Linked DNA regions of Homo sapiens: regions 1, 2 and 3 are each linked to region 4. Evidence: fine-mapped expression QTL. A gene starts in region 4. Each other region holds a variant in brackets. All regions are shown on one strand. Distances are from middle to middle.

What was found.
Region 1: its variant is fine-mapped to the expression of DCHS1 in whole blood (TOPMed, PIP 0.93).
Region 2: its variant is fine-mapped to the expression of DCHS1 in whole blood (INTERVAL, PIP above 0.99).
Region 3: its variant is fine-mapped to the expression of DCHS1 in whole blood (TOPMed, PIP above 0.99). The same link has a PIP of 0.9 or more in blood mononuclear cells.

The regions. Positions count from the first base shown.
Region 1 is chr11:6,400,176-6,407,784 of GRCh38, forward strand. It overlaps APBB1 (amyloid beta precursor protein binding family B member 1), which reads right to left. Exons shown (of 15, transcript NM_001164.5): 3 at 3,472-3,647; 4 at 3,313-3,369; 5 at 3,144-3,229; 6 at 2,970-3,033; 7 at 2,401-2,550; 8 at 1,907-2,034; 9 at 1,802-1,807; 10 at 1,399-1,513; 11 at 1,170-1,254; 12 at 814-897. Among named protein-coding and RNA genes, the nearest start is that of SMPD1, 14 kb to the left of the region's middle. RefSeq lists a silencer at 5,144-5,438. The variant A/G (reference allele first, on the strand shown) is at 3,965.
Region 2 is chr11:6,510,979-6,518,587 of GRCh38, forward strand. It overlaps DNHD1 (dynein heavy chain domain 1), which reads left to right. Exons shown (of 43, transcript NM_144666.3): 7 at 295-451. Among named protein-coding and RNA genes, the nearest start is that of DNHD1, 18 kb to the left of the region's middle. The variant CTCCTT/C (reference allele first, on the strand shown) is at 3,492.
Region 3 is chr11:6,680,861-6,685,860 of GRCh38, forward strand. MRPL17 (mitochondrial ribosomal protein L17) reads right to left here and starts at 2,480. Exons shown (of 3, transcript NM_022061.4): 1 at 2,263-2,480; 2 at 1,887-1,955; 3 at 1-1,542. The coding sequence starts at 2,436. The coding sequence ends at 1,258. It also overlaps the pseudogene RPL21P94. RefSeq lists enhancers at 2,022-2,784, 2,201-2,640. The variant T/G (reference allele first, on the strand shown) is at 2,519.
Region 4 is chr11:6,652,815-6,660,423 of GRCh38, forward strand. It overlaps DCHS1 (dachsous cadherin-related 1), which reads right to left and starts at 2,995. Exons shown (of 21, transcript NM_003737.4): 1 at 2,749-2,995.

The sequences.
Region 1 (7,609 bases), 250 kb before region 4:
GCTTCAAAGGTATTTGTTAAGTGAATAAACAAATAAATAGCAGACACTAGGAAAGCACTGAAATATAAGAGTTAACCAGATCAGGCCAGGCACAGTGGCTCACGCCTGTAATCCCGGCACTCTCAGAGGCCGAGGCAGGTGGATCACTTGAGGTCAGGAGTTCAAGACCAGCCCTGGCCAACACAGTGAAACCCCGTCTCCACTAAACATACAAAAATTAACCAGGCGTGGTGGCGGGAGCCTGTAATCCCAGCTATTCAGGAGGCTAAGGCAGGAGAATTGCTTGAACCCAGGAGGCGGAGGTTGCAGTGAGCTAAGATCACGCCACCGCACTCCAGCCTGGCGGACAGAGCGAGACTTGTCTTTAAAAAAAAAAAAAAAAAAATTCTTTGCAACAATGAAGTATGTGACAATTATGCTCACTGTTTCCTTCTCCAGATGCTCCCAGCCCACAGCTGGTGCTGTAACACTAAACCCAGCTACAGGCTGCTGTCTGGTGTCCTCCAGTCATCTAACATCAGCCTCCCAATCCCACCAAAGCTTTTCCATGGGATGAAGGAGTGGGGTCTCCCTTTGTGCCTGGTTCAGCACCACTCACGTGGCTGATGCTCAGCGAAGGCGTGCTGACTGCTGCTATAGGCAGGACAGGAAATAGAGCTAGGACAGAAGTATGGGGAGGTGGGATGCATTTTAAAGGGTAGGGAGACACCAAGCATGAGGAAGGTCTGGTAGAAGAAGTATTGGAAGGCAGAGGGTAGGGGCAGAGTTTTAGGATCAAGGTAGCAGCCCCTGGGTATAGAAGGACACACATACCAACAGGTTTAGCAACAGGTACATTCCCCAGGTAATAGACTTGGAACTTCTGGACCAACTCATTCTTAGGCGCTGGGAATTCCACTATGGGAAAGAAGAGAAGGTTGATCATGGTGGCAGACCTTGCTCACCCGCAGCCCCACCAGCAGGGCATAAGCTGGACACTTGCCCAGCCGAGGCCCTACTTTCATCTCGTCCCCTGCCTCCCTTTAACCGGAGTCCCTCCACGTATTGGAGTATTCAGTCTTCATGTGTTCATTTTTCTATCAGCGCTGTCCAGGAGCTCATGCCTTTCCTTGGGTCACCCACCTTTGCCAACAAAGCTGAGCTGGACCTGGAGGGGTTTTGACACTGACCTTGGAAAGGGACATCCACAAGTTTAGAGTGGTCCAGGGAGAGTCCATTTACCAAGCAGCGGGCATTACGCCGTTCGGCCATGATCTGAGGAAGGAAGGGAGGCGAGGAGCCAGGGAGAATCTATTAGAGCCTCATTGCCCTGGGGCCCCCCTACAGCACTCAGTGACCCCACCCACACCCTTGTAGAGCAAAGGTGGCAACTAGTCCAGGGAGTGGAGGGGGCCGTGCCTTAGAGCAGATCTCATGCAGGCTGGTGGCGATGTTCTTGGCAGGTGCCTCACAGCGAAACACGTGGCACTTGAGCATCTGGGTCAGCTTATCACGAGCTACGTAGGCAAAGTCCCTGTTGGGGAAGGGGCACCTCAGTGTCTCCCAGTACCATCCAGTGCTGAGCCTGGTCCCCACCCCACCCACGTCCTCCCTGCCCATCACAGCTCCTCCAGGGCTTCTGCCCACAGCTGGTCCCCCATAGGTGCTGCCTTCTTGGGGGGGAGGGGTAGACAGGCAAGCATGCTGAGGTGGAGGGTAATGGTGGAGCATAGCGGGTGGGAAGGGGCAGGGCAGAAGAGGGGAGCTTGGGTGCTTCCAGGCATCTGGTCCAGGTGTAGGAGGGGGAAAATAGGCATAGTACCTCTCTCTGGGTCCAGCAGCACAAGAGAGGCAAATAACAGAGTTAGAGAGGAGGACTCTGATGCTGGATGAACTCCCACCCTCGAATCCCAAGCCCTATTCCCACCTTCCACTGTCCCGCCCGACGCCCCACACGCGGATGCTGATGATGGGTTGGGCGTGCAGCAGTGCCTGGCTCTGTGGCTCCACTAGCTTTAGTGTCTCATCCTCCAGCTGCAGTAGCAGATCCTTTCCCTGCAGGACCAGAAGCAGGCACTCAGTGGGACTCCAGCCAGGATGGTGGCTGATCTCTGACCCCTGCAGCTCAGGGGATGTTAGCCACAGCTCTGGGGCCCCTGCTTTGGTGTCAGACCGCCCGCCCTGCAGGCCTCACTCTAGTGGAGGTCACGTGTCATCTCTCACATTGACTCCACCGTTGTTAGGCGACTATCTCCCAAGGTCCTGGCCTGGGGTCGCTCATCCATCCCACAGGGCTGCCACTTAGGATGGGCCAATATCCCCCTTCCCCAGCCTGCTTGTGGGCAGGTCAGACCTCCCATCTCTCATAATTCCCTTCACACTCTCACAGTACCACCCCCTACCCCCGGCTCAGGTCCTTACTTCCCCCCAGCCCCCAGACATGGGGTCATGCAGGTTGTTTTTGTGGTAAGAGAGCTGACGGATGCAATTGTTGACTGCCACACTGCTGCGTCCAGGGGCCAGCTCCTCCTCGGTCATCTCTACCCAGCCTAGGGAGCGCACGGCGAAACACTGCCAGACACAGAAGAGGGGCAGGAGGTAGAGGATCTGAGTCAAAACTGGAGAGTTCCTGACTACAGAGTGTGGCAGGAGGCAGGGTGTTCTGAACTAAGACGGAGAAGCTCCCCAAACAGGATGTGGTTAGGGAGAGGGGGATGTGGTTAGGGTGAGGGAGATGTCAGATGAGACCCCAGCTAGTACAAAAAAGCACCTGAACTAAGACTACAAGGGCCCCCAACCTGGCTGTTGGGCTGGTTGATTTAAAAACTGAAGTGCCTCCAGCTCAGACACAGGGCTCTGTGCTGAGACTGGAAGAACTCCTAACTCAGGACCTGGGGAACTGCGCTGAGACCCCTCAGAGCACAACATTAGGGGCTGTCTGACAAATAAGAGGGCCCCAGACTCAGAATGGGTGTCAGTCTTGAACAAACCTTGATCCCTGGGTTGGTATTCCGTGGGGGAAGCTTCTCCTCCTCTTGGGGCAACGGCTCTGGGCTGAAGGCAGATGGTAATACTTGGCACAGGGCTCCCATAAATGGAGCTGTCCCAAGGCCCCTTCCAGACAGATCCATCCCACTGCCAGCTCACTGCATCTGGCAGCTCACCTGAGGCTCTGAGCTGGGAAGGTCAACGTCCCCTCCTCAGGTTCCTTCAGTCCCAGCTCCATTGGGGCCTCATCACTGGGTTCATCCTTGGGAAGGGGATTGAGGAATCAGTATCAAAATGATGCCCCTCCTCCAGCTATCCCGTGGTAAAGCAGGTCCCCTTACCCACCTTCCAAAATTCTCCATCCTCAAAGCCTTCTCCATGAGCAAAACCTGTCCAGGTGAGCTAGGAGGAGGGATGGGAGTAGTGAGTGAGTGTCCTATCCTACTCCAGCAGCACACACTCCCTCCACCCCTGGCCCAAAATCAACAGGCCTGTGAGCCTCACCTGGGACTCCTCTTGGGGGCTGCTCCCCTGTGAGGGGGAGGCCCGGCCGGGGGGTTCCCACTGGGTGGTCCCTGTTGGGATGTGCCAGTAATAGGTCCCTGAGGTGTCCTGGACCCTCATCCATCCAGCCGGCAGGTCGGAATCCGTCTCGAAGGCGTTGGGGTTCCAGAAGGAATCTGCCAGGTGGGAGGCTTGGTGAGGGTCAGCCTACCCAAAGAGCAGACAGCTGGTGCCTATGCCCGGTCCCCTCTGAGACCCCATGGTTGAGAAGGGGTGGTGGAAGAGCTATACCACAACACAGTTCCTGCTTCTGCCTAGAGCCTATAGTCTGGAGTCACCACATGTGGGGCCACCAGTAGGGGACATGGCTCAGGTCTCCTCCTGGGCCCTGTTGGTGGCTAATGTGGCCACACTGTGGAAAGGAGGAAGGCAGGGAGGGAAGAAGGAAGGGAGCAATGAATGTTGGGTGACCCCAATTAACCTCCTTTCATAC[A/G]TATCTATTATCTCAGTTAACACGAAGGTGAACACTTTCTAGCTCCTGCACACGTACATGTATACACAGACACACAACACATACAAGCCCTACCACACACCTGTGCAGCCACAAACACCAGGGTATGCAACACAGAAAATGCCAGCACAGATGGCAGGTATCACACACAGGTGCACATGTATGTGCAGGGGCACACACACACAAACTTTAGCCATACACTTATGCAGACACCACAGAGGTGTGTGTGCATGCAGCTAAACATACGAGCCCCTGCCACACAGGTGTGCAGATACCACACCACAATGGCCCCAACACACGTGTGGGTACCACACACACAGGCGGACCCACACTCAGACACACGGCACACGTCAAACCCTGCCAAATGTGTGCAGACACCACAGACGCTCACTTCCTGACCCTTGCTGCACACAGATGCAAGCAAACATGTCATGCACATACACACATACCTCGCATCTGTGTCATACACCCTTGTCTGCCGGCAGAGCCACACCACTCCAACCCTGTAACCCGCTCATGCGTCCTCTAACTCTTCTCTCCCTGTCAGCCCCACCCCACATGAGGCCCAACCTCATGCTGCCCCTCACCTGCGCTGCTGTCCTGCAGGATAATGGCCAGGAAAAAGTCCTGGGAGAACATGGCGCTCATTCCCGGCCCCTCCTGCCTCCACCCTCCCTCCTCACAGCCCCTCCAGCCCAGCCAGCTGGGCTCACAGCCTGGTGCTGGGCTGCAGAGAAAAGCTCATCCCGCCCCCTTCTCACCAGGGCAGAGCGTCTGCCAGGCAAGATCCTCCCCCGCTTGGAGCTTGCTAGGGAGGGGCCAGGACCACCATGCTAGGGAATCTCCTTGGGGGGTGGGGAAGGGAGGAGAAAGGGAGGTTCATGAGACCCCAGCCCCTTCTGCTCACACCTCTTCTTCCTCGCCCTGGCTCCCCTCCCCCAATCCTGAATCTCCATCCCACCCTCCAGTGGTTACCTCAGTGCCTAAGCCAAGCCCAGTCTTAGGGATACCAGGAGACTCAGCCCCTAAGGAATACCCCAGCTGCCTGGGGCCCTGCAGAGCCTATAGCTGTCAGCATAAATAGGGTGTGGTTTCAAGGCCTTCAGGGATCCCGCCCCTGTCCAGGACCTGCACAGCAGTTTGAACCCAAGGGTGGGCTTTGAGGTCCTGAGCCCCAGCAAGCTTGAGGCTGGGCTTGGGGCTTCCCAGCACCACCCCCCACCCCTCACCTGCCAGGGCCCAGCTAGGCTGCAGCGTCTCCTCGGCAACCGCAGCACCAGGACCGGCTGGGAGCGCCCAGACTGCTGACGTGCTTCCCGTTACCAGGGAAACCAGGAATCCTGACTGGTCCAAGAGGCAGTACTAAGGGACAGGCAGTCCCAAGACCCTGCTGCTGGGCAACCAGACACAGCAGGGCTGGGAGTGGGCGTGGTTACGCCAAGGTGGCTGCACACCTGACGAGAGTTATTCAGGCAGGGTGCTTCACCATCCTCAGCTTCCAAATGACGTGGGCCCACAGACACCCAAAGAGGAGGGGCTCTTGCCCATCCACCTTCTAGGCAGCCATCACCGCCTCTCCTCACCCCCACTTCCCCCTAACTCACACTCTATGGAATAAGGTTTTCAATAGGCACCTGAAACTTAGCTGAGGCTCAGGGAATACCTGCTGTTCCCTAGAGACCCTCCATTGCCTCAGGACTCTCCTGCTAAAACCTTCCAGGAACAGCACCCTAGGGCCTCCATGCCCTCCACAGCCACAGCCTGCTTCATGAGGGCTGGCTGGACACTTCTGGAATCTGGGGACCAGTTCACCATCTCCTGACTGAGTCACACACACCAATCCATCTGCCATCCCTGTCAGCCTGTACCTTCCTGCTTCAAAGAGCTTCATCCTTCCGATCTGTCCTGGAAGGGCAGTTTCTCCCCCCTTGGCCATCTGGGAGGCCCTTCTGGAGCTTGGCACATCTCCCTCCAAGCGCAGCCCACCCCGGCCTTTGCTTTCACACACATGCATTTATTCCAGAACGCACACCTTCACTCCTGCATCGATTCATGCGACACTTACATATAAAATACATTAAATGTTCACGTATCATTCCTTCCTTCCTTCATTCGTTCATCCACAAATGCCTTAGTGGTGAAGCCAGGTGTACTCACTTGCTCAGGAATCAGTGATTGACTTAAAGCTTTCCCCTTCTCTCCACCCCACATAACTAACATAGCCCAGGCTACTAGCTTTTTTTTTTTTAACCTGCATCATTGCAAAAACATCATAACTGGTCTTTCTCTTCCTATCTGGTCTCCTCCAATCTCAGCTGCACAGTACAGCCCAAATGATTCTTCTGAGATGCTAAACTAATCAAGTAATTTTCCAACGGAATCCTCTTAATTGTTTTGTCACTGCCCTCAGGATAAAGTCCAAATTCCTCCCCAGGTTTTATGTGCTGTCATGAACCCCTGTCTGCCTCTCAGCCTTACCTCCAGCCACTCCCCTTCTCTCTCTTTGCTTGGGACATGCCCCCTTGTCCTCTCCCAGCCCACCTCCCTTACTCTCGATTTTCACCTGGCTATCACCTACCTCTCCTTCAGACATCAGTATACAGGTCCCTTCTTAAAACTGACCCATTGCCCTCTCCCCCACCACTCTCACAGGCAGGGTCAGGGGCCCCTCCTGTACTTCCCCAGCCCCAGAGAGCTCATCGCACTGATCATAACCACTTGTTTCTTTCTTTGTCTCCTCACCAGGCTGTGAAGGCCAGGAGGTAAGAACATCTTTGCCCCATAGTATACATTTCCAGCATTTACGATAAGGCCTGGAGCAGAGTATGAATTCAATACAGGTAGTAAAGTTTATTCATTCATCATTCATTTAATTCATGAATTCATGCATTTATGCATTCAATCCATAGCTCTATGAATATCCTACAATAGGAAGGAGAATATAATTTTTGCTCAATTCTAGCCTCATTTCTGCAGGAGCACAAACCTTCTCTGCAGCCCTCATGGTCATAGCAACACAGTTGTAAAAGAGTGACTTGGCCCCTTTCCTGGGCTGGCCCCCACCTCTATCCTCAATTCACAATGTCTCCACCAGTGCATGATCCTTGAGAATCCTCTTGCCACTCCAACATCCTTGCTGAGGTCACTGCCCAGCAAACCCGCCCCAGCTCTTCAGCAGTACTATCCCCCTACTCCTAGAAGCTTCATAGGTAGTTCAGAGTTGCAGCCCCCACAGTGACCATCCCAGGGGCAAGTGAGCAACTAGGCCTCTATTTGGTCACTGACTCACACCCCCTAGTCTTGCAAACTTCCAACCTACAACCTGCAGACTGATGCAAGCCTCAGATAGATTGTGTGTGGCCTGCACAGTGCTTTTTAAAAAATAGAATTTGTTGTTAACGTTTAGAAATTGGGCTATTTTACACCAATATCTAGTTTTCAGTTTCCCTTTAACTGGCTGCATTGAGACTATATTTTTCCTCACCCCAATCCCAAAAATAATCAGCTGGAGTGCAGGAGGGGCTGTTCCTTTTAAAAGGAGTTGAGACAATGACCACCAAAGGCCACTAACATCACAAAAAAGAGAGGCAATCAGACTTTGCCTTTAGTAGAAGTATTTTTTTTTTT
Region 2 (7,609 bases), 140 kb before region 4:
GTCAGACCTTGGTATCTATTTGACCCTCTCTTCTAGCAGAGAGATCACTAGGTATAAGCACTTGCACATACCCCAAGCCTTTTCTCAGCTTGTATAGCTGAGAAAGCAGCTTTATGGGCTTATACTCTTTCAGAGAACTCTCGAGAGGGAGCTGTCACTATTGGTCACTGTTGGTAATATTACAATCTCTATAAATATTTGTGCAGTCTGAGGTAAGCTAGGCTGAGAAGAGGTCAAAGGTATCCAAGGAAGGATTGGGATGCCAGCTCTGACCAGCTTAGTCCTTGATTCTAGGCTTCTGCAGGAGCTACACTCTGTGTCCTGGCTACCCCAGGAACTGGATCGGTGCTATGAGCTGCTGGACCTGCAGACGGCTCTAGCCGAGGAGAAGCATAAGGCTCTACGGCTGCTCCATCGTTGCCTAAACCTCTGCACATCCATTCTTCGACTGGTAAGAGGCTCTTAGTTTATTGTGGACCTCTTCCCCAAGTTGAGCTCCCCAGAGTTTCAGCCTCCTCTTAGTTAAGTTTCTCCTGGAATCCACTGTATGACCTGGACTCTACAGTTGAATCAGAGCCATTTTCCTGCCCAGCAACAGCAGTTTCTGCTCTAGGATGGATGAATCAATAACAGGTGTGCAGAGGCTTGAACTAGACCTTTCCCTAAGGGTTGATCTTGACCTAGGAGCAGGGAGGAGAAGGAATGTATCAATGTCTATTTTGTCTGTTGTTTATGCTGACCTTTGGGAATTAGGGAATTTGAGAACAGGAATCCTGGTCTTTTATGCTGCTGAGCTTATTTTTGAACCTATCTTGAACCTTTGGAAGGCCACTGTAGTTAGTGGAAGGATGCAATGATGGAGTCCTTCTTAATTATGCATATGTTGCATCTGTGATGCACAACCCCTGCCTAGAGTTCTGGGAGGCCCTCCTGTGTACTGACCTCTTGCCCATGGTCTATTATCATGGTTTGTTGTCAGGTGGGGCTGGATATTCACACAGGACTGTGGCTAATTACCATGTGTAGATAGTCCGGTTCTGAGAGAGGAGGCCCACTCAGATTTTGTGAAAATAACTAATTAATGTGAAGGAGGCATACCTTGCCTGGCTTGAGCCAGGTTTTGGGTTCTACATGTTGCTCTAAACTCCATCAGAGGAGGTTAATCACAAAGGACAGAACTCTGAAGTCTCAAAAATGGCCTCAACTGCAAGGAATTTCTTTTCTTTTTCTTTCTTTTTTTTTTTTTTTTTTTTTTTTTTTGAGACGGAGTCTCGCTCTGTCACCCAGGCTGGAGTGCAGTGGCGGGATCTCGGCTCACTGCAAGCTCTGCCTTCCGGGTTCACGCCATTCTCCTGCCTCAGCCTCCCAAGTAGCTGGGACTACAGGCACCCACCACCATGCCCGGCTAATTTTTTTTGTATTTTTAGTAGAGATGGGGTTTCACTGTGTTAGCCAGGATGGTCTTGATCTCCTGACCTTGTGATCCGCCCACCTCGGCCTCCCAAAGTGCTGGGATTACAGGTGTGAACCACCGCGCCTGGCCGACTGCAAGGAATTTCTGTTCCTAGGAGGAACCAATAACTTCTGTTGATTGCTCTGGTTGAAATCTTAAATATTTAAAAATACCCGTAATAAAACATTTTCATAAAATTTTAAATAGTCAAATTCCTTCCCCTTCTAAGAATTACCTGTCCTCTTTATCCTACTCTGTTTTCCTTTTTCTGTCTTCCTTCTCACCTTTAAAAATACTATATAAGTTACTTACTATTTTTACTAATGTCTCATGATAGGTTGTAACCTCCACAAGGGTAGAGATCTTTGTTTTGTTCACTGATGTATCCCAGGAACCTAGGGATATTATTGAACGTCTTTACACAAAGAGCCTCTGCATTTTTACGACTTTGCACTGATTGGACTCTTCAGTGATATCTTCTTTGGATGTTTTAGAAGAGTGGCTAAAAAAGGAAATTCATAGTCTCTCTTTAGGAGGTTTAGAGGAAAGGGGCCAAAGGCATTAGCAATGTCAAGATCCTAAAGCCAAGGTGCAGGAGTGAAAAGGAGGCAGTGGCCTTTAGCTTCCAGACAATAAATGCTGGACCTGCCATTGTACCAAGCTGAATGAGGCAGGAGATGGGGGTGAGCTGCTCCACAGCCTTTCTCTACCTCTCAGTTCCTCAATCCCACCTTTAATGTTATAAAAATAGTTATAACTTTTTGAAATTCAGTAGTCAATTTTGTATATTAAGGTATAATTCATATACAGTAGACAAATTTTAACTGTAAAGTTGTTGAATTTTTTGCATTTGTATTTGTATTGCTATATATTTGTATACCTGGATCACGATAGAGAACATTTCCAGCACCCCAGCAAGCTCCCTGGTGCCTCTTTCATTGATACCCCCGCAGAGGTAACCAGTACTCTGACCTGTGTCACCACAGGTTAATTTTGTCTCATTTTGAATTTCATGTAACTAGAATTGGACAGTGTGTGCTCCTCTTTGCCTGACTTTTTTCACTCAACATTATGTTTGTGAGATTTATCCGTAATGTTCTAGGTAGCAGTGGTTTACTCTTTTTGTATAGCTACGTAGTATTTCACTGTATGAATGACCACAATTTATATATTCATTCTTCTATTGTGGACATTTGGGTTGGTTCCAGTTTTTTACTATTATGAATAACACTGCTGTGAACATTCTTGTACATGTCTTTTGGTGGACATAAGCATTTATTTTTTTGGGATATATATGCCAGGAGTGGAACTGCTAGAATAGAATATATGTATGTTTTATACTGCCAAACAGTTTTCCAGAGTGGTTGTACCAGTTTACGTTTCCATCAGTGATGCTGATTTCCAGCTGCCTTTCATTCTTTTTTTTTTTTGAGACGGAGTCTCATTCTGTCGCCCAGGCTGGAATGCAATGGTGCAATCTTGGCTCACTGCAAGCTCTGCCTCCCGGGTTCACACCATTCTCCTGCCTCAGCCTCCCAAGTAGCTGGGACTACAGGCACCTGCCACCACGCCCGACTAATTTTTTTTTGTATTTTTAGTAGAGACGGGGTTTCATCATGTTAGCCAGGATGGTCTCAATCTCCTGACCTCATGATCCACCTGCCTCAGCCTCCCGAAGTACTGGGATTACAGGTGTGAGTCTGGCTGTGTCTCCCAGGCTGGAGTGCAGTGGTGTGATCTCAGCTCACTGCAACCTCCACCTCCTGTGTTCAAGTGATTCTCCTGCATCAGCCTCCCAAGTAACTGGGATTACAGGTGTGAGCCACAACACCCAGCTAATTTTTATATTTTTAGTGGAGACAGGGTTTCACCATCTTGGCCAGGCTGGTCTTGAACTCCTGATCTCAAGTGATTCATCTGCCTTGGCTTCCCAAAGTGCTAGGATTACAGGTGTGAGCCACTGCACCTGGCCTCAGTTGCCTTTCATTCTCACCAACACTTATTTTTTTTCTTTTCCCTCCCTCTCTCTCTCCTCTCC[CTCCTT/C]TCCTTTCCTTTCCTTTCCTTTCTCCCTCCTTCCCTCCCTTCTTTCCTCCCTTCCTCCCTTTTTCTCTCCCTCCCTCTCTTCCTCCCTCCCTCCCTCTCTTCCTTCCTTCCTTCTGTGATTTTGTATTTTGATATAATTTCAAACTTATTAGAATTGTAAAGATAGTAAGATAAACTCTCACATACCCTTTATATAGATTGTTATTTTTCCCATTTCCTTTATCATTTATGCTCTTTTTTTATAAACATGTATACATTATTTTCTAAATAATTTGAGAGTCAATTGAAGGCATCAGCCCCCTTACCCCTGTCTTAGTTTGTTTTCTGTTGCTATAATAGAATACCAAAGACTGGGTAATTTATAAAGAATAAAAGTTTATTTGGTTCATGGTTCTGGAGGCTGGGAAGTCCAAGAGCATCTGGCGAGAGTCTCATCCCATGGTGGAGGGTATCACATACTGATGAGACATGAATATGAGACAGAGAGAGGAGAGAGGAAATCAGGCAAAACTCATCCTTTTTATCAGGAATCCATTCCCATGATAACTAACCCACTCCCATGATCAGAACATTGATCCCTTCATGTGAGTTAAGCCCTCTTAGCTCATTGATCCCTTCATGTGGGTTGAGCCCTCTTAAAGACCCCATCTCTTAAAACTGTTACTATGGCAATTAAGTTTCCAACACATTAACTTTTGGGAGACACATTCAAATCATTCAAATCATAGCAACTCCTGTATATGTCAGTATGTTTTTTCTGTGAATGAGGACATTTCATTTTATAACTATAGTACAATGATCAAAGATTAGGAAATTTCACTCTGATACAACTCTGTTATCTAATCTCCAATCTTTATTCAAAATTTGGCAATTGTTCTAATAATGTCCTTTATTACTATATTTTTTCGTTCTTCAGGATCCAAACCAGAATTATGTATTGAATTTAGTGCTCACTTCTGTTTAGTCTCTCTTATATGGAACAGTTCCTCAGCCTTTGTGTTTTCCTTACTTGCTTCAAGGCATGACAACTCTGTAATACGATTGGAACATTCCAAGCCTCCTTCCCCACTCCAGATGAGACCAAAAATAGAATTTAGCTGAGATCTTGCTGGGTACTTTCCCCTTCTCTTTTCTGCTTTTTTTTTTACTCCTGTAGAGGCTCTTGTTTCCCTGAAGATCATTCCTTCAATAAATCACATTTCTCCCAATCCCTGTCTCAGGGTCTGCTTCTGGGGAACTCAACCTAAAAGAATATGTATTAGGCCAAGCTCATTCACTGTTTTATTCAAATATTCTATAGACACATTTTTTTTTTTTTTTTTTTTTTTGAGTCAGGGACTCACTCTGTCACCCAGGCTGGAGTGCAGTGGCATGATTTTGGCTTACTGCAACCTCCACCCCCTTGGGCTCAAGCCATCCTCTCACCTCAGCCTCTTGAGTAACTGGGACTACAGACATGGGCCACCGTACCTGGCTAATGTTTGTATTTCTTTTATAGAGGCAGGGTTTTACCATGTTGTCCAGGCTGGTCTCGAACTCCAAGCTCAAGTGATCCTCCCACCTCGCCCTCCCAAAGTGCTGGGATTATAGGCATGAGCCACCACACCCAGCCAAGACACAATAATTTTTTAACCTCCATTGTCTTTCAGTTTCTGAGAGGTATATGTTAAATATCCCTTCCTACCTACAACTATAGATTTGTTCATTTCTGCTTGCTGTTCTTTCAGTTTTTGCAACATGTATTTTAAAATCATATTTTAAACTCATTTTAAAATACATGTTTTCACTCTCTTTTGTTTTGTCATAGTACTCTAATCACTTTTTTTTTTTTTTTTTGAGATGGAGTTTCATTCTTGTCGCCTAGGCTGGAGTGTAGTGGCGCAATCTTGGTTGGCTCACTGCAACCTCTGCCTCCAGGGTTCAAGTGATTCTCCTACCTCAGCCTCCCGAGTAGCTAGGATTACAGGTGCCCACCACCACGCCTGGCTAATTTTTGTATTTTTAGTAGACATAGGGTTTCGCCTCATTGGCCAGGCTGGTCTCAAACCCCTGACCTCACGTGATCCGCCCACCTCAGCCTCCCAAAGTGCTGGGATTACAAGTGTTAGCCACCTCGCCCCACCAGTACTAACCACCTTTTTATGTACACCATAAATTATGTATTTATTATGTTTGCTGTCTCTCTCCCTCCTCCTGGAGGGGCAATGACTTGAGCACTCATTCACTAATATATCTCTAGTGCTTACTGTAGGGTATGCCATTTAGTAGGTGCTCAGTAATTTTTGTTGAGTGAATGAATGACAAGTATGAATTTTTAACCATATCGTTCTCCCAAGCAGAATAAGAACCTTAGCATTATCATACTTTCCTTTCCCTTCTCTCTTCCTCCCTCTATTCTTCCCATTACTCTTATATTGGTATCTCCTGGAATCTTCTTCAAGATTGTTATGAACATTCTTGTTTTATAACCTACTCCTTTGTCTTAGTCCACTCAGGCCTCTATAACAAAATACCATAATCTGGGTGGCTTACAAACAACAAACATTTATTCTTGGAAGCTAGGAAGTCCAACATCAAGGTGATGACAGATTCAGACTCTGGCAAGGGCTCAGTCCTCATAGGTGGCACCTTCTCACCACAGAAGGGACTAGCCAGCTCTCTGGGGCCTTTTAAAAATAAAATTGACAAATAAAAATGGAATATATTCAAGGTGTACAATGTGATGACTTGATAGATGTATACATTGTGTAATGATTACCACAGTCAAATTAATTAACACATCCATCACCACACAGGCTGTACATTAGATTCCCAGAACTTGTTCATCTTATAACTAAAAGTTTGAACCCTTTGAATAGAACTGTCATATGATCCAGCAATCCCACTTCTGTGTATATACCCAAAGGAAATGAAATCAGTATCTCAAAGAGATATCTATACCCCCATTTTTATTGCAGGATTATTCACAATAGCCAAGATATAGAAACATCGATGTGTCCATCAATGGATGAATGATTAAAGAAATTGTGATATTAATACATATATACAATGAAATATTATTCAGTCACAAAAAGAAGGAAATAATGCCATTAGTGACAACACGTATGAACCTGGGGACATTATGCTAAGTGAAATAAGCCAGACAAGGAAAGACAAATACTGTATGATCTAGGACTTCTTTTTTTTTTTTTTTTTTTTTTTTTTTTTTTTTTAAGGGCACTAATCCTATTCCTGAGACTGGAGACCTCATGATCTAATCACCTCCCCAAAGACTCCACCTCATAATACCGTCACCTTATGGGTTCAGATTTCAAAATATGAATTTTGGAGGGACACAAACACACAGGCCATAGCACTACTTAAAATTAACAATATGTCTCACAAATTTCTTTGCCCATCAAATCTTTTGTAGAATACTTTATCCTCTTGGATTCATTTTCCTCTGCATGGAATATATTAATACTATTCCTAATTGTTTTAAGGGAGAATCTGTGGATGGAAAATTTTCTGAGTCTTTGTATATCTAAAAATGTTTTTATTTATCCTCAAACTTTAATGATATTCTGGCTAGGTATAGAATTCCAAGTTTTTTATTGTTATCATTACTTTTGAGACAGAATCTCACTCTGTTGCCCATGCAGTGGCATGATCAGGGATCACTGCAGCCTCAACTTCCCGGGCTCAGGTGATCCTCCCACCTCAGCCTCCCGAGTAGCTGGGACTACAGCAGTTGATACCGCCACGCCTGGCTAATTTTTTGTATTTTTTGCAGAGATCGGGTTTCACCATGTTGCCCAGGCTGGTCTCAAACTTCTGGACTTAAGTGATCCACCCTCCTTGGTCTTCCAAAGTGCTGGGATTACAAGCATGAGCCACTGTGCCCATCCTAAACATTTTTTTCACATAATTTGGCTGTTATCACCCCTAGTATTGGTGCTTTAAAAATGTATACTGATTACGTTCTATGGTATTAGCAATTATTATTGTTGTCGTTGGTATGGTTTTATCCTAATGGCACTCAGTAGGCTCTTTCAATGTGAGATTATACATTCTTTTTACAAACATTTACTGTGGAACTACCCCATGCCAGGCACTGTGTCAAGCAATAGAAAA
Region 3 (5,000 bases), 27 kb after region 4:
TGAAGAACAAACCATAGTAGAGAAAAAGAGATAAAGAGCTCTGTTGGGAGTAGATGAGTATCAGACTAAGGCAGCTACAGCTAAATTAGCACCAGAATAGTTCGTTCTGTCACTGAAGCCATGTCTGCTACACCAGTGATCCCTTTACCCTTACTCTTACTTATTATCTCAGACAGTGGATGGGTTCAGTGGGCCAAATACACTCAGAAGATAGAGCCTAAGATAAAATCTCTTCTACCCACTTTACTGGGGATATGGCAATTATCAGGCACTGCTATCAAGTGTTTGGACCAAGACTGATGGCTCCTTTCTAAGTCCTTCCATAACTACTACCCTACTAAAGCCTCTGAACCCAAGGGAACGGCAGCCTGGCTGTGCCAAGAAAGGGGCTCCCAGCTTCTCACATTCTGAAGCCGGATTTCCCTTTTCTGGGTTCCCAGAGAGGCCAGATTTGACAACAATAAAAACTTCCAGGAAATTCCTAGGAGGTTTAATTTCCTAATCCTTCTCTCGCATAGACCCTCTTTCTTACCCCTTCCCCTCACCAAGAGGAAGGAGCTTATCCTGGAGCCCAACATCCTCTGCTGAATGTCTCCACCCCTTTGGCCAAACTGGTGGAACATCTGAGTTCTTGGGTCCTCTCCTCCCAGGCCCATTCAGGGGGTTGAAGGGAACACATTAAGGTAATGTGTGATCCTGCCTCAAAACAGAGGACTGATTGCAGTATCCCCTGAAGGTTCGCAGGGTACTAGATTGTTTAAGGAAGTTTCACTTGCAGATTGTCACTCCCCTACCCCTGTCAGGAAGTAATCTTTCTCTAAGAAATCCCAAGCACTCATCTCTAGGAGACCAGATGTCAAAACACAACCACCTCTGGCAACATTTGGAATTATAGGATGCATTCCCATGTAAACTGGCATTAAGAAAAACAAAATTGCACTAACCAAAAATAACCCAAATTTAAGGACCAGAAGCATAAGCCATGAATTTACTATCTCAGGTAGACTGAGCATTTGGATAATTCTCATTCTCCAGAAATCCCACAGGAAGGAAAAAATAAATAAATTTATATATATTCATATAAAGACTTTTATCTATTGTGCAAAGAGAGGGTCATCTGGCTCCCCAGAAGGTTCTCAACCCCATCAAGACTGTCCATTTTACATCTCTAGCTCCAGTTCTTCTCAGAGAGTAAAAGTGCTCCAAAGGCCTGTGATCATGGGTACTGATTAAGGGCTGCAGACTCTTCAGATCCAGTTAAATCCCTGGTGTTTGAGCTGTGTGGGAGCTGTGGTTGCTTGCTTCCTGGCTTTGCCTGAGGTCCTGCCGCAAACCCTGCAGCAGCTGGTTTAGGAGTGTAAGGTGGCTGTCTCTGCGAGGCAGAGGCAGGGGTGGGAGGCAATTCCCTTTATACTCGATCACTGCCATCTTGGCCCGATCCAAACTCCGATTTGGGATCTGCAGCATTCTTGTGTAGCCCCCAGTTTGATCTTTGTACCGAGGGGCCAGTACTTGAAACAGCTTTGGGATCAAATCCTTCTCCTAGAGGGAGAATTATCCAAGAGACAGCAGAGTCAGGCAAAACTGCAGAGGCATTTAACTTTACACCATTCCCAAAGGTAAGGTCCATCCACACATAGAAAGACCTCCCCCTCCCCTCGCCAATCTGGCATAGTCAGTGTTACACAAAGGGGTCGTTTATAGGCAGTTGTGCAGAGGTATATTCACATCGACTTCAACTAACTTAAGACACAGTTTCTAATTTAGTTAGCAGCACTGGCCCATAAGTGAGTACCCAAGTTTAATTCTGCATAGTTCTCCTTTTTCCAACCCCCACCCCCAGGGAGCAAAGGGTGGGATTTTGAAGGCAGATAGGTCGCACTCACTGTGAGCCAGAAGTCAGCCATGCGCATGGCTCGTTCGTTAGTGTCTCCCAGCTTCCCATAGTCGATGAGCTGTGAGGACATAACATCACGGATCCAACCGAGCAAGAAAACAAGGTGCCAATCTAATTTCTCTAATGCCGGAAGGCAATCCATTCTTTCCACTAGCCAAGCATCTCCAATCTACGCCACCCCTAACTCCGCAGCCCTAACCAGTCTTCCATTAGAGGCGATGGAGGGGCGGGTTCAGCCCAAGGTTCTGGGGGACTCAGACTTGGGGAATGGTTTACCAGGTTGGTCCCGGTCCCTTTCCACTTGCAGCCGGCTCCGCCCCCTCAGACCAGACCCGCAGAGTGGACAAGAGGGCCGCGCTCCTCACCTTCTCCGCGTAGCCCCTCATTTCGTCCACACGCGCCCATGGTGCCTCGATGCGTTCGTGCCGCACCAGCCCTGTGAGCAAGTTCCGCAACAGATGGATGCGGGACTCGGGACCGAGGCCCATACGGCGAAATACGCGGCCATGGGAGATCGCTGCAGCGACCGACAGCCGCATGTTTCCAACTTCTGCCCGCCCCTTGGAGGCCGGAACTGGAAACTGGAAGGTAGAGCCGGTGGCGGCAATTTCAGGGAACGCA[T/G]GCGCCTTAGCTCGGAGCGTGGTGAACGTGTTTGCGCATGCGCATCAGAGCCTGCCTCGTTGGCAATCTCGGGAAGGGCGGAGAAACGGTGTTGAGCTTTTCCAGAGGCGGCGAGCTGGGCGGGCTTCAGGCATCCAGAGCGCTCTGTGGCGGCCGAAGAACCAGGCGCCCCCTAGTGTGGGATAAGCGGGCCATCGGGTTTTTTTTGGGGCTGCGTCAGCCAGTGGCATTTAGGGCGATGGGGCGCTCCGCCGCGGAGACTCCTGGGAAAGAGAGCGTCTGAAGAGAAAGGCACCCGGAGGGTTCGGGGTCCTGCGGGCTGACGGCCCTACCGGGTCCAGCAGTGGCCAGCTGGCCTGGTTGACACCTGTACGCATTGTTTTTAACACAGTGATTTTCAGTAGTAATGGTGAGATGGATAATAACGATGCCCGGAAAAGAAACGCAGATAGTGAAATTTTTCTTTTATTGAAGTAATCACTCCAGTTAAAAAAATTACAGCACTAAAGGGAAAAGTAGTAGATTGTTTTTAATTACACCAGTGTGTCTTTTTAAGGGGAAAAAACATACCTACACATTTATGTGTTAATGAACAATAATATTATAGTTTGTTTTTGAGCCTTAACATCTGCAAATTGGCAATGACTGTCAAAATTATTCCTTGTTATGGGTTGAATTGTGTCTTCCCCATGATTCTTCCCGTCCCCAAAAAGCTATGTTAAGTCCTAACCTGCAGTAACTCAGAATGTGACCTTATGTGGAAATAGGGTCATTGCAGATGTCATTTGTTAAGATGAAGTCATGCAGGCATAGGTGGGCGCCTAATCCAAAATGCCTAGTGTCTAGCTAGCTAGATAGATAGACACATATATACGTACATACATATATGCAGGCCGGGCACGGTGGCTCACTCCTGTAATTCCAGCACTTTGGGAGGCCGAGGCGGGCGGATCACCTGAGGTCAGGAATTCGAGACCAGCCTGGCCAACATGGCGAAACCCCGTCTCTACTAAAAACACAAAAATTAGCCGGGCGTGGTGGCTCATGCCTGTAATTCTAGCTACTCGGGAGGCTGAGGCAGGAGAATAGCTTGAACCCGGGAGGTGGAGGTTGCAGTGAGCTGAGATCGGGCACTGCACTCTAGACTGGGCGACAGAGTGAGGCTCTATCTCAAAAAAAAAAAAAAAAAAAATGCGCATGAAGAGAGAGAGATGGACACAGGGTGATGCTGACCAGGTAAAGACAGAGACATACAGGCAGAAAGCCATGTGACCTTGAAAGCAGAGATTATGGAGTCAAGCAGTTGCAAATCAATGAATGAACACCAAGGATTGCTGGAGCACACCTGAAGCCAAGGGAAAGGTATAAAACGCATTCTTTTTCAGATCTGTCAGAGAGCATGACCCTGCTGCTAACACATCGCTTTCTTACTTCTAGCCTCCAGAGCCACAAAACAATAAATTTCTGTTGTTTTAAGTTCCACAGTTTGTGATAGTTTGTTACAGCAGTCTTAGGAAATGAATTCACTCCTCTTTACATGTACATATTCAGTAGACGTATAGATTTGTCACTTTGTCAGCTTATAGGTGACCAAAGAACACTTCTTTGCTAATTTTAATTTTGAAAAGTTTCTTTAATATGAAGGAACAAATATGCAAATAGGAAAAGTCATGAACATATAAATACATTGACAGATTTATACAAATCACACTTCACAATTAAAGAAATTTACAATAAATTACAGAAATTACAATTACCATTCATGTTTTGTTTCTTTGGGAGCAATTCTTGTAGTTTTCAATTGTCTTTGCAGTTGAAAAATTTCACTAAGATGTTTTCACCAGGATATATATATATTTTTTTGAGACGGAGTTTCTTTCTTGTTGCCCAGGCTGGAGTGCAATGGTGCGGTCTCGGCTCACTGCAACCTCCACCTCCTGGGTTCAAGCGATTCTCATGCCTCAGCCTCACAAGTAACTGGGATTACAGGCGCCCACCACCATGCCTGGCTAATTTTTTTTGTATTTTTAGTAGAGACGGGGTTTCACCATGTTGGCCGGGCTGGTCTCGAACTCCTGACCTCAGGTGATCTGCCCGCCTCAGCCTCCCAAAGTGCTGGGATTACAGGTGTGAGCCACTGTGCCCGGCCCACCAGAAAATTTATCATAAATTTCTATTGGTAAAAACTTGTGAAGAGGTTCTTCTTCAGCAAAAATTAGGTGAAATGAAACATTGATCCATTGTCTTAGAAAATGCTTACACTTGGTAAAAACAATTGTAGCATCAAACACTGTCCTTTTGACTTTTTCTGGCAATACAAGACCGTCATCTCTTGTCTCTTCTGGTAGTCTTCAAAATTTGATTCTTTTTTATATGTCAATTTCCTTACATTTTGTTTTTGCAGCATTACTACTGGCTTTCTCTGCAATTTCTGTGGGCTGATATTAACGGAACAATTTTTTTTTACAGTCCAAGGGTCTTT
Region 4 (7,609 bases):
TTCACCCCACCATGTCTGCTTTGTCACTGAGCCCTGCTGATCCCACTGCCTAAAGAGCTCTTGAAACCATCCACTTTCTCCTTCTCTCCGGCCACTACTCCAGTTCAGGCCAGTGTTATACCCTCCAGAGTTTCTGCAACAGCCAACTGTCCTTCTTCTCAGGCTCTTTCTCCAGTCTCCACATGGCTGTCAGAGTGGTATTTCTAAAATGAATCTGATCATATCGCTCCAAGCTTCCAATGATTTGGTGACTCTCCATTATTCTTGGGTTAAATGAATTTCTTTCTGTGGCCTCCTAGACCCTGCATGGTCTAAGCCTCCATTTACCTCTCCCACAGACTCTCCCTCTCTCGTCACCTCATGCTGTAAGTGTCAGGCTCACTGAACTGCTTTATCCCTCACACACACACTATTTTCCTTCATGTGGGCTTTTACATGCTGCTCCCTTGGCTTGGCATATTCTCCACCCACTCCATCAAGTTTAAGTTTAAATGCCACTTCCTCCAGAAAGACTCTTCTGACCTCCCTACACTGGCCTAGGTTACTCTGCTGTGTGCTGCTGTGTTACAACACTCACTCCACAGCCTGTAAGCTCCATGAGGATAAGGACCATGTCCATTTTGTTCACACTTGTGCTGCCAACTCTCATCACAATGCCTAGCAGAGTAGGTGCCTAGTATGTGTTTGTTAAATGAATGAATTAGCGTTTTGATTAATTAATCTACTGAAAACAATGGTGTGAGGGATGTGGGGTAATGAGTGTGAAGAAAATAGAAAAAAAATCATCTATTTATTTATGAAGGGCCCAGTTGAGGTTTGAATTTTTTAGAAGTATGAATTTATAGAAGCGTCCCCTGGTGTGGTTGAGAAATCATTCTAGTTAGGGGCAATAATTTGAGGGATGAGTATAGAAGACAAGGAAACACAGTGGCCAAGGAGTGGTTGAAGGGATGATCCTTAGCATATGAGCTGGAAAGAAAGCACAAAGTCAGAAAGGAACAGAGTAGGAGAAAACAAAGAGGTCAAGGGCAAGAGGTCATTATGAGGTCAAAGAGTGTAATGGGAGCGAGAACATCTGAAAGCTGGAAGGATATAGGAGGTTGTGGGTAGAGAGAGGAATGCAAGAGTTTAGAATTTTAAAGGTGGAATAGTTCTACAGAGTGGTCCTGGGAGGGAGGAAGGTAACAGGAGCTAAGGAGGTCAAGAATCTGTGAAGCTGTGGTGTTGAAGGACACTGAGAAACCATGGCAGGATACACTATCCAGATCTCGAAGTTTTCAGGGAACAAGAGGGTATACCTGGGAGATCTACGTATGAGAAGGGGTGAAGGTGTGAGCTTGATAAGTTAAGCAGAGTTTATTCAGAAGTTGGGACAGGTCTTCCTGTGGTGTGCATGCCATCCATGACTGTCTCCTGGGGGTTGTACAAGTGGCTGTGTGGTAAGGGCAACTGTGGCACAGCCTCCTGTTAGTGACAGGCTTCTAGGACACCCACTATGTATGGGCAGCTCCAAGGAAGTAAACCTAATAAGATGTGCTGTGACAGTTGTGACAGTGCTTCTGATGGATGTGGATTGCAGTGACAATGTCTCCTGAGAGGTGCTGGTCTACTTGTTTGTTGCTGGTGACAGTGTTTCTGGAGAGTGTTAGCAGTAACAATGTCTTCCATGGTATGTGTTGGCCTTGACAATGAACCGGTGGGAGTATGTTGGTTGCAGCATTTCTCCTGTGGGTGTGTGTTGTCATGAGAGCATTTTCCGTAGGTGTGTGTTGGCTTGATAGAGTCTGCTGTAGGTGTGTGTTGGTTCTGACTGGGGGTGCTTCCTGGGGGTGGGCTTCCTGGAAGTGTATGATGGCTGTGAGGGTATCTCTTGAGGATGTGTGTTCCCTGGGACTGTGTCCTCTTGTGGGTTGAGTAGGGCTATGACTGTGTCCCTATGGGTATTTGAGAAGTTGACATAAGCGACAATATTTTTCTGGCCTATGACCTTGTGGCTGTGGGCCCAGCCCGCCACACTGAGTTCATTGTGCTTCTAGACCTCCCTCTCCCCACCCCCTCCACGTGGGACCCACGCCTGCGGTGACCTTGCTCTGTCCCCTGCACGGGATTCTGAGCTGGGTATCCCAGACACAAACTCCCAGTTGCTCCAATCTCCCACTCAGAACACGTCTGGGTGACCCCCCCCTCCATCCACTTCAGGCTGTGCCTGCCTCTCCTCTGCTTCTCTGTACTTCTCCCCACTCAGTTTCTTTGTCTCTGTCTCAGTTGGTCTCTGTCACACACCCATCCTCCACATTCTGACACATGGGCTCCCACAGAGCGGGCAACACACCCTCACAGGGACTCGCTCACCATGACACACGGTCATTCTGACCCTCACACCCTCAGAGTGACACGCACATGCACACACAGCCAGAGAGACGCCCAGGGACACACAACCTCCCAGTGACACGCACTGACACACTCCGACGATGCACTGGAACACAACGCTGTCGCACCCCACACCCCCGGCGCACGCTCCCGCCGCCACCCTCCCCGACTCGATGACACACGCACACAAAGACCCCCAGGCCCTGCCCCCACGCTCACGTTCACGCCCGCCCGGGTCCCGCAGGCCCAGGCCCCCCCTCCCCCATTGTCTCCGGCTCAGAACAAAGCCCCCGGCTCCGCCGCCGCTGCCGCAGCCCAGGGGAGGCCGGCGGGCAGGGCGGGCGCGGCCAGACGGGCCGGGCGGGCGCGGGCACTGACCTCCGCGCGACGCGGGCTCCCTCGCCCGGTGCTGGGGCGCCGTCCGGCCGCGGTCAGCCCCCCGGGCAGCGCCCGCTCGCGCGGGGCCTGAGGCCGCGCATCGTCCGCAGTCGCTGTCTCCGAGGCCCGCGATCCCCTCCGGGCAGCCGCCGTCGGTCCGCGCGCCCTTGGCCGTCGATCGGTCCGTCCGCTGACGCCCGGGCGCCGCCTCCTGCACAGCCGCCCCGCCGAGGATGCGAGCTCCGCTGCCGCGGCCCCGCGCCCCCTCCCCTCCCCTCCCCCCGCCCTCCGCGCGGTAACCCGAGCCCCCGCCCCTCCGCCCGCGGAGCCCCCGCCCCCGCCCCCACCCGCGCTCCGCGCCGCCGCCCCCCCTTCCCCCCGGCGCCCGCCCGGCCTCCCTCCGCCCCTCCACTTCCCGGCCCCAGGCCCCGGCTCCGGATCCGGCCCCAGCGCCGCGCCGCGCCCCCGTCCCGGTTCCCTTCCCTTCTCCCCGTCACTTCTCCCGTCCTCTCCTCCCATTCGGTTCTCTACGCCCTCTCGTCTCTTCCCCTTCTCGCCGCTCCCTGCTGCTCACCTCCTCCTCTTCCATCTTCTTTCCATCCCCTATTCCCCTCTTCTCCCTCAGTGCCCTGGTCTCCCTCTCGCCCCTTCTTTTTCCCAACCGTCATCTCCATTCCCCTCTGCCTTTCTCCCATCCTCTTCTTCTCGCCCCATCTCCATCATTTTCTCCCCAGCTCTTCTCCCCTTTCTCTTCTCCTTACCCCTTCTGCTTGATCTCTCTCCAGCCTCTTTACATCAGATTCTCCTTCCCCACCTCTCCTTTTATCCTTTTCTTCCTATCCCTTTCTCCCCGTCTCTTCTCCCCACCTTTCTCCCCATCCCCTTCTCCCTGTGTCTTTCGCCTCACCTCATCATCCCCTTTTCCTCACGCCTTCTCCTCATTCCCTTTTCTCACCCCTGCCCTTTTCACTACCCGCTGTCTCTTCCCCTTCTTCCATCGTAACCTCGGCCTTCTCCCCTGTTAGTCACTTTTCATTATCCCATGATTTCTGTCTCTTTTCTCTCCTTCACCCCCAGGCTCCCTTTCCCCCACTTTCTCTTTATCCCAAATTTGAGGGTAGAGATCGGGAGATATTGGAAAGAAGAGCTTTGGGGATGGTGGTCCCACTCACGATATACTCCCTAGAAAAATTAAGTGAGGAGGAAACCGGGCAGGGAAGTGGGAAGGGGCTCAAAAAACCAACTTGGGAGAGAATATGGGGAGAGGGGAAATCAGACAGAGACAAAGAGCAAGCAATCTTAAAGGAACTGGGAAGAGTTCTGACTCCTGTCCTTCTTCCTTAGGACTGCGAGTAGACTGTGAGAAAAACAGGTTTTCTGGACTTGAGATGTGTACAAATGGCACAAAGAAATCAGGAACTTCTGTGGAGAAGGAACACAGTTTCAGCTGAAGAAGAAGGGAGTGTGATTTTGGAAGAGGAGTGAGGGAGAGACTGGGGTCCTTGATCATATCCACGGCGCTTGGGCAGCTGGGTGGATGGATGGTGGTGAGGCTGGCTGTGCTCCACAAAAGGAGCAGCAGGAGGCTGCAGGGGGTTCGTATGAGGAGATGATGACTGTGACTTGGGGCTGCTGACTTTGAAGTGCTGGTTGGGTAGGTAGGTCTGCAACTTAGAGGAGCGGTCTGGGATGGACATAAATATTTGGGAGTCATCTGCAAATGCCGTATAAGCTTGAATATAGGGTGAAGTTTTTGCTTTTTTGTTTTTCCAAAATCATCCCTCAGGAAAGAGGGAGTAACCTTATATTTGAGTCCTTACAAGGTCTCTCATATTACAGGGTTTGCTCTCATTTACTTTATTTTGAACAACAAACCACTGGATAGGGCAGTATGGTATGGTGACTAAGCTTGTGGACTCTGGAGCCAGACTCCCTGGCTCGGGGTCCAGACTCTCCTATTTACAAGCTGTGTGGCACTGGGAAAGTTACTTAACTTGTCTCTGCCTCAGTTTTCTCATCTATAAAGTGGGCCTAAGGATTAAATTATGTAATATATATAAAGCACTATATACCTGGCACTATATGGTAAGTGTCCAATAAATGCTAACTATTTTTACTGTTTGGCTAAGACCCATTGACCTGAAATGTCCTCAACAATGCTATTTTGGATGTATTGTAGTCAAAGAAATTTAACACAGCTTTGGTAACTATTCCTGGTAGTATGACCTCATAATCGCATGTGTTGGATGTCTCAAAATATGCTTTTTAAAGATTGCTTTAAAAAGCAATACAGTAGTACTTGGAAGAGGTTTCTGGGCTGCCGAAAATGTTCTATTTCTTGACCTGAGTGGTTATATGGACCTGAGGGATGTTTCACTCTGACAGTTCATTGAGCTGAATATTTATGATGGCTTGTGGCCTTTTCCATATAGATGTTATATTTCAGTAAAAAAAGTTAACAGAAATATAATTTTTAAAAAGTATTACATTAAGTGATGTTTTGAAGTCATGAATATACTCAGGCAGGGTGCATGCAAAAAACCAACTGTTCTAGTGTGATGCAAAGGAAACTTGTGACTTAGGATAAAGTTTCCAAGGACTGCATCATCTGTGAATTCAAACTGTGCTGTGTCCTCTCCCAAGCCCTTCGCTTAAACTGAAGAGAAGGACATCTGTTCTGGGAAAACATGTAAGATGGCTGAAAAAGTGATCCTAATGATGAGAAAGACACTGCTTGTGTTGAGTATGCATAAAATTGCTTCATAATTTATGAGAATGGAAAAGACAATATTTATCAGTTATATATTTTTATATGATATATGAATTTAAATATATGTCCAATAAAGTCCATTAACTCATAGAAGTACACTTTTGATTGTTTCATCCTCATCCTTAAAGGTTTACATTTCTAGGTTGGTTGAAAAGCTTTTTGGATCTTCTCACTGGGAAAAATGAAAAATTACTGTTTGGGCAAGACCCATTAACCTGAAATGTCCTCAACAACCCAATTTGTGTTGCTTTGTATACAGTAAGCTGTATTGTATAGTAAGTGTGACAGATGGTAAGTGAAGGTAAGGGAGTGAATGAGATTACAGAGGGAGAGCATGTACATTAGGAAGAAAAGAAGGTCTAGGACAGATGCTGAGAAGCTCCAACATGTAAAGGTTGAGAAGAGGAGGAGCCCTCAAAGGAAAGTGAGAGGATGTGGCCAGACAGGGAGGAGAAAGAAAGGGAGGTGAGTGGTGCCACTGAAGCCCAGGGAATGGCCACAGAAGAAGCCATGAAGTGAGGAGAGGTCATTAGGTTGGAATGACACAGAGGAGGCCAGTGAGGTAAGGACTGAAAAGTATCCATTGGATTTGGCTGGGGCCTAGGGGGCAGGCTGGTGACCTTGGGGACAATGTGGTAGGTGGAGTGGTAAGGATGAAGGCTAATTAGCACTCAGTAACTAAGGAGTGAGTGGAAGGTGAGGAACTGAAGACTTGGAGTAGAGCTTATTCTTTAAGGAGGCCTAACTACAGGGGAGGAGAGAGACCTATAACTGGCGTAAGGGATAGGAGTTTTAGGGGGTCAGGAAGTTTTTCAAATAGAAGAATCCAAATTCATTTATTTTCTTGCTTCCTTCATTTATTGAAGATACATTTAGGTGCCTGCTATGTGCAACTTTATAGTTAAGATACAAAAATTAAGACATGACTAAGGAACTCATGGTAAGCTGTGAAGACAGACCTCTCAACTGACAACAGAAGGTACAATAGAGGAGAGCATGGGGTTGTGGATATAGGGGGCTTCCTAATCCAGACCAGGGCTGGGACATCAGCAAATAGTGTCACAGAGATGACAATGGAACTGGATTTGAAGGATTAGAAGCATAGCAGAGGGAAAAGTTAGAGAAAGGACTTTCAGGCAGAATAAACTGACATGTTCAAGATCACAAGAGCATGAAAGAAAATAGCTCTGGCCATGAAGGGTGGCATCCAGGCTTCAGTGGTGGTGGTCCTGCACAAACTGGCTTGGCTGGAGTGTTGAGCATATGGGCTAGTGTGGGAAGCAAAAACAGGAAAGGTAAATGGAGCCAAATCATGGACAATATATGTCATGCAAATGGTCCAGGCTCTGAGGAGCCATTGAAGGGTTTATTTAATAAGATAAATGAAATGGACAGGTTACGTGTCATCAACATAATTTTGGCTATTCCCCAGCTTATAATGAGGGTCTAAATTAAGGTAGTGATAGTAGGATTAGAAAAGAGGAGTAAGATAAGAGAGAAATTACAGGGATAAAACTACTAGAAGTAAAGGGTGTAGCATGGGAGGATTCTAAGATGGCTTCCATGTTCTTGGGTCGTACATTAGTGATGCTACTTAGGAAGCTGGGGAAGCAATAGAGAAGCAGGTTTGTGGGGAAAAGGTAAGATGGTGAGTTGAGTTTTGGATATAAGAGTCGAAGATGTATGTGAGATATCCAAATAAATATGTCTAATAGGTGATTGAGTATAAAATTTGGAACTCAGAAGAGAGTTGAGCTGAGGGTAGATATTTCAAAGCAGTTATTTTGCAGGTGGTAAGTGGAATCATGAGAATGGATGTGGCCACCCACAGAGAGCATGAAGTGAGAAGAGCATCTAGGCAGCCTTTAAGACATGGGCAAAAAAAAGAAGAGTCATAAAAGAGATTGAGAAGAAGCAGGCAACAAGGTAAGACTTAAATGAAAGTAGTATCTGGGCCAGTGCGGTGGCTCACGCCTGCAATCCCAGCACTTTGGGAGGCCAAAGTGGGCAGATCATGAGCTCAGGAGTTTGAGACCAGCCTGGGCCAACATGGTGAAACCCCGTCTCTAAAAATACAAAAGTTAGCTGGGC